2 separate regions of the Homo sapiens genome follow, and region 2 is linked to region 1. Evidence: fine-mapped expression QTL. A gene starts in region 1. The other region holds a variant in brackets. All regions are shown on one strand. Distances are between the middles of the regions.

Region 1 (5,380 bases):
AGTGGTGTGAAATACTTTTTAACAATTGTGCTTGTCTGTAACTGAAATGTTATAGAATTTTAACACTATAGGGATTATAGAGTTATATTAGCTCTCCTCAAGAGACTGAAGCACAATATTTTTCATGTAACAATTCTTATCCAAGTGCTGCTAATCTGTCGTGCAAATAATGAAGCTATTTGGTTGCCTATTTAGCTATTCACAAATCACTGTAATCTTTGAAACAATCTTGTCGTTCATTTGTATTAATATTTGGATATTGTGAGTTAATACTTTAGAAAAAAATCCATCAACTCAGCCCCGTTAGCAAAACTGTTTGGATTCATAGTTTTTATATGTGTTAACAGTAGAATAAATTTTGAAGGGGCTATTTACTACCAATGACTAAGGGGAAAATTATACTGTCACTATCATTTGACTTGAACATTTGTGGTATTGTAAAAGTCTTGTCAGTTGTGTTCTAAATTGCTTAAGCCATACGTTCTCTTAAACAGGATGTTTTTTTCTTCCTTTCCAGCAGCCTTTTTCTTCTTTGTCTGTTATGGTTAATACTCCATAGATTTTAGAAATTGAGAAGTTCTTGAAACATTTTATTTTCTTGAGTTCATCACTTTTGACTCTTGTATGAGATGTGATTTGTCATAAAAGATAGCCTTCCACTACTTCACTAAATGAATTTCAGAGTAAACACTGTGATTCTGCAGAGCGGATTCAGTAGGCTTTCCAATGTTTTCTCCTGCTATACAGTGCCTACCACCTTGAGGGCACTTCAGTACTAGAGGATGAAAACTGAAACGTTGTTTTGATGTTTATTGAATAACGAGATTAGAGAATATTTGATTTTTGTTGTCAGTGTATTAAAGAAATTTTCACATTGATAAATGTTCTCTAGGAATGTGTCTACATTCATCAGGTGTGAACTCTTGTACATGAATTTTGTACCTTGAATCCACATATATATTAAGTGTATCATCAATATAAAAATAAACATTATTTGCTTAAAGTTTTTGGTACTTTTTCGGTATTGACAGCTGAACTGTTAGGGTTTGCTTCATTCAAATATCTCAGAGGCTTTGAACTATCTTGGGGTTGATGCTTCTTGTTAGTTTGTCAATGTTTGAATCCTGGTTTTGGTTTTTTCCCTGCCCTGCTCCTGCAGGTCAGAACTGGAACACGCGAGGGAAGGGACTGTTGAAGAATTGGGTGGAATCTGCTTATTCTTGGGCTTGTGTTGAGTCTGGGGATGGAACCAGAGTTCCTTAAGGTGGAATGGCTGGCTTGGCATTGACGAGTTCAGGGACCTGACTTAGGGTACTGATTTGGACCGTGACTTTTTGTTTGAGATAGAGTTTCGCTCTTGTTGCCCAGGCTGGAGTGCAATGGCGCGATCTTGACTCACTGCAACCTACACCTCCCGGGTTCAAGCGATTATCCTGCCTCAGCCTCCCAAGTAATTGGGATTACAGGCATGGGCCACCATGCCCGGCTAATTTTGTATTTTTAGTAGAGACGAGGTTTCGCTATGTTAGGCTGGTCTGAACTCCTGACCTCGGGTGAACCACCCGCCTCGGCTTCTCAAAGTGTGGGGATTACAGGAGTGAGCCACCGCGCCCGGCCTGGACTGTGACTTGGAACAAGATAGTTTTTCCTCTTTTGTTTATTTTCCTACTGCCTGCATGATTGCTATTTATTTAAAGAGACGGAGTCTCGCCACGGTGCCCAGGCTGGTCTGGAAGCCCTGGTCTCAAGAGATCCTCCCACCTCGGTCTTCCGAGTAGCTGGGACCACAGAAGCGCGCGCCGTGCACTTTTGATGTTTTCAACTTCCTTCCTAAGCAGAAAGGAGACGGCCCAGCAGCGGATGGTGAAGCTAATCCAATATAGTGAGCTGCCACCAGCGTTTTTAAGTGCATTACATAGTAAGAACGTGGTTCTGCTGGACGTTATGTACTCGGTTGCGATATAAAACGCATCATCTACAGTAGGTGACAGGCGCCAAAGTCTAAAAACTGGTCTCAAGGTGTAAGGTCCCAGGACTAGTTTCTGGAGCTACTGGCTTGTGAGTGAAGCTGGAGGCGCAGACTTCCCGGGTCACACGGTGGCAAGGCAGCTGCCTAGGGTGCGGCGGGACCGGGCGGCGCGGGGGGGCGCCTGGCCAAGCAGTGCAGCCCCGGCCGGGTTTGTAGCCAGCACAGCACAGCGGGGCCTGTGGCACCGACTGGGTTCTTTTACTTTTGACACGAAGCCCCTCCCACTTACCACGCTCTGCACGCGCCCCTGTTAAAATAGAAAAAGACCGAGAGGCCTCGGAGACTCAGTCATCATCTGTGGCTCTGGCCGCTCGCTGACGTGGCGAACTGGGCTGAGGGAGCGCCCGGCTGGGCACCCGAGAACTCCAGCCGTTCCGGCCCAGTCGCCGCTCAGAGGTGGTAACAGTAGCCGCCAAGGCCGCGCACGGGCGCATGCGCGCGTCGGACCAACCCCCTCCCCCCACCGCGCAGTCACTTCCGGCGCGCTGGGAGACGTGCGGTTCCGGGTCGCTGCTCGGCTCGCCGGCTGGGCGGTGGGGGTTGGTGACGCGGGCCGGGGCTCACGAGAGGCCCGGGAGGCGGGGCTTTGCTGGCTTCCCAGAGAGAGGCAGGTGCGCGGGCCAGGACTCCGGGAATGCGAGCAGGCCCCTTATTCTCCCAGTGGCCTCGGTCTGTCCCCACAGCGGCCCGGTCAGGGTTGCCCGAGCCCCAAGGCGGGGGGCGGCACCGGGGTGCTGAAAGGGTGAGAGTGGGGGCGGAGGCGGGCTGCCCCGGCCTGGGAGTCTGGAGCCTAGGGTTCCGGGATTCCTCCCTGCGCGACCTTGGACAAGTCGCTCCTCCTCTCTAGGGCTCAGTTTCCTTGCTGTCAAATGGGAGAGATGTTGGATCCTTCCTTTCTTTGACAGTCCAAAGCACGGGCGGGGCTGGAGGTAGCCTGAGGGAGTGAGATCCAAACTGCCGTGGCAGGCACCTGCCTGCCTCCCTGGGGGTTAGACATCTGTCTTTACCCAATTTTGCCTTGCTTTTTGTCAGTGCACATCCGTGACCAGACGCCCAGGGTCTGGCCGGGTAAACAGTATGTGAGTGTAGTAATCAACTGAGAAATAAATACTGGCTCCAGGAAAACTTAACCTCATTCAAATTGTTTTGCTCAGGGCTCCCAGGGAGAAGTGAATTTAGGCACCCGCTGCGGTGATCAATTCTGTTCTATGCGCTTGTAAGTGAAGCTCTTAGGCAAAAAACAATTTCATAGGAGATCAGGGTTAGGGAGGGTATCCCATTGAGAGTTGTGACAGGTTTTCTTACCCCCTTTAATCCTTCTTCTGCCCCTCCTCTTCCTTCACTTCTTCCCCCTATCCCCACCCAACATTTTGGCCATACACTTGAAAAGAAATACCCAATGCATTTTATCTTTGTCTTCATGCAGGACAGAATGCTTTGACCTCCAAGCTGTTTTAAATCTAGTAGATAAGCCAGGTGAGTAAGTGGTTTACACACATTGAAAGTAAAGTTTCTGAAGAATTGTACAGCCTTAATGGAGGATCTGAAGTGGTAAGATGGCATTTGTGTATCTCAGAGCAGAGCTTAGGTATCCTCCACAAAACATGGAAAGTTAAGGTTGGAACCAGAATATTAGTGTTTTATACACCATTAGGAGGAAAAGGTTTTTGAATCTTACTTTGAATATCATGTCAAACATTCTTAAGAAAAGAAACTGTGAGGCCGGGCGCAGTGGCTTATGCCTGTAATCCCAGCACTTTGGGAGGCCAATGCAGGTGGATCATCTGAGGTCAAGAGTTTGAGACCAGCCTGACCAACACGGAGAAACCTCGTCTCTACTAAAAATATAAAATAAGCCGGGCATAGTGGCGCATTCCTGTAATCCCAGCTACTCGGGAGGCTGAGGCAGGAGAATCGCTTGAACCCAGGAGGTGGAGGTTGCGGTGAGCCGAGATAGTGCCATTGCATTCCAGCTTAGGCAACAAGAGCGAAACTCCATCTCAAAAAAAAAAAAAAAAAAAAAAAAAAAAAGAAAGAAAGAAAATAAACTCATTGGAGGTAATTTTATCAAACTCAAAACCACACAGCGTCTCTAGAAAATGTTCAAGGATATCAGATACTTATATAATAGAGTTGTCTGGTGTGTCTTCTTTTTTCTGTTACCAGCTTTTCCTATTGGACAGTTGATTGCAAACCATCCTGAAACAGTAGGATATTACACCTTTTACATATTGAATTACATATTGAATATTGAATTACATATGAATTGAATTACATGCATTTTTGTCTTCAACTTAAAGAACACTAAACTGTAGTTAAGCTTATTGGAGGAAGGATTTGAAATCATTAAGTCATGAATATATGATGTTGATGTCTGCTCTGGGACATTTTACCAAGTGTGTTATATGTCATAGCCAACATGTAATTAAAAAAAAAAAACGTAGAGATTTGTGAATCAGAGTCCTCTGTTCAAATACCAGCCCTTCCACTTAGCCACACAATCTTTGGTAGGTTACTTCATCTTCTTGAGACTGGGTTTCTTCATCTGTATATGCATATGAAGCACCTGAGTGCTTTTTAAATGTTTAGTAATTGTGTTCTATAAGTGTACATGTAAGTTATGAAACTTAGTTTTGAAATCTAAAACTTAACAACTCAGATGCGAAATCTTTCCAATGTTTAACTTTTGAACTGTCTCTTTCATCTGATTTGTAGATCCTGTGTTGCCATAAGCCCTTGGCCCACATTTAAGTGGGAATGCAGCTAGCTTGGATGTCTGAAACTTTGTAGGCGCCTCTGTCTGAATCCTGAACACAGGCACCAGGACTACTGAGAGCTCGTCATCTGTGCAGGATAGCCACACAGCAAACATGTTTGCAAAACTGAAGAAGAAAATTGCAGAAGAGACTGCTGTTGCTCAGAGGCCAGGAGGTGCTACTAGGATCCCACGGTCTGTGAGCAAGGAATCAGTTGCCTCAATGGGAGCTGACTCAGGAGATGACTTTGTAAGTACCTTTACTTAAGAAATAAAGATACTTTTGCAGGGTATTCTTCCAATAAATATTTTAAATTGCTTGATTATTTCATACCTTTCATGGTTTATAGCTGTACAAGAGCCTGTACATCTGATTCTTCTTACTCTGAGGTACCTTTTTGTTAATGTTTGGTTTGTAAATGTTAAGGTACTCTATATTTTTTTCCTTATTTTTCTGTGAGTTCCTCTCCATATTCTCTCCAGTGTCCTCTTGTACTGTTTTTCCGTCTATATACCTTATACATCTTCTTTTGCATTTCATTTCTGAAAATGTCTGGGCCTGTTTTCATTGCAGACATATATACTTATATAACAAC
Region 2 (5,380 bases), 57 kb before region 1:
ATCTGAACATCCCACAGTTGCTGTTCCATTTGGACAAGAGTTTAGCTAATTCATATGAATTTAGTGGGAAAAGGCTAACTTCAGAACCAGAACTAAAGTGCTTGATACAATAGTGATAATAATGGATATTTGCACGCTGAAATCTGGCAATACATTCTTAAAGGTGAAGTTTTTGTGAATGAGAATTTTCAAATTCTATTCAAATATTTTTCTAAGTTTTACAGTTAGTGGCTCATTTAAAATTGTATTTACTTATGAGACTAAGATTTCATTCTTTAAAAAAAAAAAAGCTTATTTTATTCTGCAACTTCTTTTTTTTTTTCTGAGACAGGGTCTCACTCTGTCATGCAGACTGGAGTGCAATGGTGTGATCATAGTTCACTGCAGCCTGGGAATACAGGCACCTACCACCATGCTCGGCTAATTTTTAAAATTTTTTTGTAGAGACAGGTCTCACTATATTGCCCAGGCTGGTCTGGAACTCCTGGCCTCATGCAGTCCTCCTGCTTCAGCCTCCCAAAGTGCTGGGATTACAGGCATGAGCAACCATGTCTGACCAACTTCCTTTTAAAATAATATTGTTAAACCTGAGATTTTAAGTTTGCTTGAAATGTAAAGGTCATTTTGAACATCCCAGATCTCCATTCCTTTTATTACTTAGAATAATGATGCCATAGAGTCTTGTTTTGTTTCTCATTATATTCTGTTTGAAGAACTGCTGAATAATTAAATGTTTTTTAAAATGTTGAAAATGACAACATACTGAAGTCATTTAAATACTCCATTAAATTAAAATGTTAAATTTTAAAATAATTTAAATGTGTAATTATCTTCGCTTGAATCAATGAGAGATTCACACAGTACCTTTGTATTTGAACATCAGGTCAGTGTTAGTCTTCAACTGAAGTCTAGGATTCTTCCCTTTGTTTTTATAGGTCCTTATGATTTTGGAGGTGTACTTACTAATAGTAACCGGGATATTATTAATGGAGATGCCATCCACAAACGAAATCAGTCCCACAAGGAAATGCACTGGTATGTATTCTGGTGTCTACTCTTATTATAAAAATTATACCTCTGTCTATAAATAGAAAAAATATTAAGTAAAATGGGGAGTTTTTTCTAGTACTAGAATGATTCCCTTAGACTAAGATTTAGGGACAGACCAGAAACACTTATTTGGATTCCAGCAATAATTCAGGCTCTGTCTATCCTAGGAAATTAGAACTTTTGGTTGATATTCATTGAATAAATATGTTACACACTGTTTAGTCACTAGGGATATGTCAGTGAACAAAATTGCATTCTAGTTGGAGACAGTAAATATATACATAAATAAATAATATGTCAGGACATTATACATGTAACATCAATACGAACTTTTAAACAAATTTTTTTCTTGAGATGGAGTCTTCCTCTGTCACTCAGGTCAGTCTTGATTTCCTGGCCTTAAGTGATTCTCCCACCTCAGCTTCACAAAGTGCTAGGATTACAAGATGTGAGCCACTGTGTTCAGCCCAAACATTTTTTTTTTTTTTTGAGATGGAGTCTTGCCCTGTCACCCAGGCTGGAGTGCAGTGGCATGATCTCGGCTCACTGCAACCTCTGCCTCCTGGGTTCAAGCGATTCTCCTGCCTCAGCCTCCTGCGTAGCTGGGATTACAGGCACCAGCCACCATGCCCGGCTAATTTTTGTATTTTTAGTAGAGATGGGGTTTTACCATGTTTGTCAGGCTGGTCTTGAACTCCTGACCTTGTGATCCACCTGCCCCGGCCTCCCAAAGTGTTGGGATTACAGGTGTGAGCCACCGTGCCCGGCCACATTTTATTTTATTTTATTTTTTTAATTGAAAAATAATCATTGTAAATATTCCTGGGGTACTTAATGATGTTTCTATATTTGTAATGTATTGTGATCAGATCAGAGTAATTAGCATACTTATCATCTCAAACATCCATTCCTTGTGTTGGGAACATTTAATATCTTTTTTCTAGCTATTTATGATAAAGGCTGATAGCAGTGGCTCACACCTGTAATCCCAACACTTTGGGAGGCCGAGATGGGTGGATCACTTGAGGTCAGGAGTTTGAGACCAGCTTGGCCAACATGAAACCCTGTCTCTACCAAAATACAAAAATTAACCGGGTGTGGTGGCTTGCGCCTGTGGTCCTACCTACTCAGGAGGCTGAGGCAGGAGAATCACTTGAACCCATTAGGTCGAGGTTGCAGTGAACTGAGATTGTGCTCCAGTCTGGGTGATAGAGCAAGACTCTGTGTCAAAAAAACAAAAAAGAGAAAATAAAAACTATATAACATATTATTAACTATAGTCATGCTACAGTGGTATAGAACACTAGAACATATTCCTTCTATCTAGCTGTAATTTTTTAATCTTTAACAATCTCTTCCCTATACCTCCGTTCCCCGTTCCCCTACCCTTCCCAACCTCTAGTATTGAGTTTGTTTTTTTTTTGAGATGGAATCTTGCTCTCATGCCCAGGCTAGAGTGCAGTGGCACGATCTTGGCTCACTGCAACCTCCATCTCCCAGGCTCAAGTGATTCTCCTACCTCAGCCTCCCAAGTAGCTGGGATTACAGGTGGCCACCACCACGCCTGGCTAATTTTTTTATTTTTCATAGAGATGGGGTTTCGCCATGTTGACCAGTCTGGTCTCGAACTCCTGACCTTAGCCTCGGCCTCCCAAAGTGCTGGAATTACAGGCATGAGCCACCGCGCTGGGCCTGAATTTTTTAATACAAGGTTTTGTTGGTTTAATATAGCACAAATGAATGTTGTTACATGATTACAAATAGAACTTCAGGCCAGGAGCAGTGGCTCATGCCTATGATCCCAACATTTTAGGAGGCTGAGGTAGGAGGATCACATGAACCCAGGAGTTTGAGACCATCCTGGGCAACTTAGTGAGACTCTGTCTCTACAAAAACTTAAAAAAAAATTTTTTTAAATGCAAAAAATACAAAAGCAAATAGAATTTCATCTACAAAAGTTCTTTTTCTTTTTTCTTTTCTTTTCTTTTTTTTTTTTTTT[TG/G]AGACAGAGTTTTACTCTGCCGCCCAGGCTGGAGTGCAGTGGCACTATCTTGGCTCACTGCAACCTCTGCCTTCCGGGTTCAAGCGATTCTCCTGCCTCAGCCTCCCAAGTAGCTGGGATTATAGTCATGCATCACCACACCCAGCTAATTTTTGTATTTTTAGTAGAGATGGGGTTTCACCATGTTGGCCATTCTGGTCTTGAAATGCTGACCTCAAGTGATCCGCCTGCTTTGGCCTCCCAAAGTGCTGGGATTACAGGCGTGAGCCACCGTGCCTGGAGTTCATTCTTTTTCTAAGCATAACAACTTCATTGCTTGGGCTGTTATTGGCTCATTGGCTCTAGAATTTTTCTAGCTGAGAGCAATCTGGTTATAAAGAAAACTGGACTGGTCTAAAACTTTGTTTCTAATACATATTGAATATCCCTTATCTGAAATATGTGGGACCAAAAGTGTTTCGGGTTTTGGATTTTTCCAGATTTTGGAATATTTGTATATAGATAGTAAGGTACCTTAGGGATGGGACCCATGAAATTGACTTGTGTTTCATATACAACTCATACACATTGCCTGAAAGTAATTTTATTTTTCCCTTTGAGATCCTGGATAAACTATGTGTTGTGCACCTGCATGACTATGATCCATCATGTGAGGTCAGGTGTGGAATTTTCTACTTGTGGCATCGTGTTGGCTCTGAAAACTTTTTGGATTTTGGAGCATTTTTCGTTTTGGATTTTCAGATTAGGAATACTGAACCTGTATGGCATGATCACTTATATGTGGAATCTGAAAAAGTTGCACTCAGAAGCAGAGTGCAACGGTAGTTCTGAGGAGCTGAGGATTGGGGAAAATAGGGAGATGTTGGTTAAAGGGTGCAGCCTCTCAGTTGTAAGATAAATATCATTTAAAGTACAGCATGGTGGTGATAATTAAAAATACTATATTGGCTGGGTGCAGTGGCTCAGGCCTGTAATGTCAGCACTTTGGGAGGCCGAAGTGGGCGGATCACTTGAGGTCAGGAGTTCGAAAACAGCCTGGCAACATGGTGAAATCCCATCTCTACTAAAAATACAAAAAATTAGCCGGGTGTGGTGGCATGTGCCTGTAATCCCAGCTACTTGGGAGGCTGAGGCAGGAGAATTGCCTGAACGTGGGAGGCGGAGGTTGCAGTGAGCCGAGATCATACCACTGCACTCCAGTCTGTGTGACAGAGCGAGACTCCATCTCAAAATAAATAAATAAAAAAAAATAAATGAAAATACTGTATTGTTGGACCGAGCATGGTGGCTCATTCCCGTAATCTCAGCACTTTGGGAGGCTGAGATGGGAAGATTGCTTGAGTTCAGGAGTTCAAGACCAGCCTTGGCAACATAAGAGGATCTTGTCTCTACTAAAAATGTAAAAAATGAGCCAGGCGTTGAGGTGCACGCCCATGGTCCCAGCTACTTGGGAGACTGAGGCAGGAGTATCACTTGAGCCTGGGAGATCGAGGCTGCAGTTAGCTATGATCTTGCCACTGTACTCCAGTCTTGGTGACAAAGTGAGACCCCATCTCAAACAACAACAATAACAAAAATTGTTGTTTACTCGAAATTTTCTGAAAGAGTAAAGCTTATGTGTCCTCTCTGCCCACTGCCCCCAGCACCACCCCCCCACCCCCGCCCCACCGCCCACACACACGAAGGGTAACGGTGTGGGAATGGAGGTGTTGATTAATTTGATCGTGGTAATCACTATACATGTATGCATTAACAAGTCATCACATTGTATACCTTGAATATATACAATTTTTATTTGTCAATAAAAGAAAAACTTTTATTTGAAATATAATGAAGTTTGATGATATTGCTCAGTGAAACATTCATAAATTTACATTTACATTAGTATCTATCCACATATGCACATCGTGTACTCAGTCATCGGAAAGAGCACGCACACCAAGATTCTGACCTTACGCATTGGCTCTCACATGCATGTTACTGGATTTCCGCCTTTGGGTTCAGTAGCTCTTCTGTGGGCCAGTCAAACTGCATGTTTAACAAGCCCTTGATGCAAATGTTTAGAGGAAACATATGGTAAAAAGTAGCTGGGCACAGTGACTCATGCCCATAATCCTAGCACTTTGGGAAGCTGAGGTGGGCAGATTGCTTGAGCTCAGGAGTTCGAGACCAGCCTGGGCAATATGGAGAAACCCCATCTCTACTAAAAAGAGAAAAATTAGCTGGTTGTGTTGGTACATGTCTGCAGTCCCAGCTACTCAAGGAGGCTGAGGTGGGAGGATCACCTGAGCCCGGGACATGGAGGTTGCTGTGAGCTGCGATTGCACAAC

What was found.
Region 2: its variant is fine-mapped to the expression of GOLGA1 in whole blood (INTERVAL, PIP above 0.99).

Annotation. Positions count from the first base shown.
Region 1 is chr9:124,938,231-124,943,610 of GRCh38, reverse strand. GOLGA1 (golgin A1) reads left to right here and starts at 2,528. Exons shown (of 23, transcript NM_002077.4): 1 at 2,528-2,640; 2 at 3,456-3,505; 3 at 4,745-5,034. The coding sequence starts at 4,900. SCAI (suppressor of cancer cell invasion) reads left to right here. Exons shown (of 18, transcript NM_001144877.3): 18 at 1-1,003. RefSeq lists silencers at 2,094-2,153, 2,484-2,853 and enhancers at 1,935-2,435, 2,436-2,936.
Region 2 is chr9:124,995,546-125,000,925 of GRCh38, reverse strand. SCAI (suppressor of cancer cell invasion) reads left to right here. Exons shown (of 18, transcript NM_001144877.3): 13 at 936-1,035. Among named protein-coding and RNA genes, the nearest start is that of GOLGA1, 57 kb to the right of the region's middle. The variant TG/G (reference allele first, on the strand shown) is at 3,050.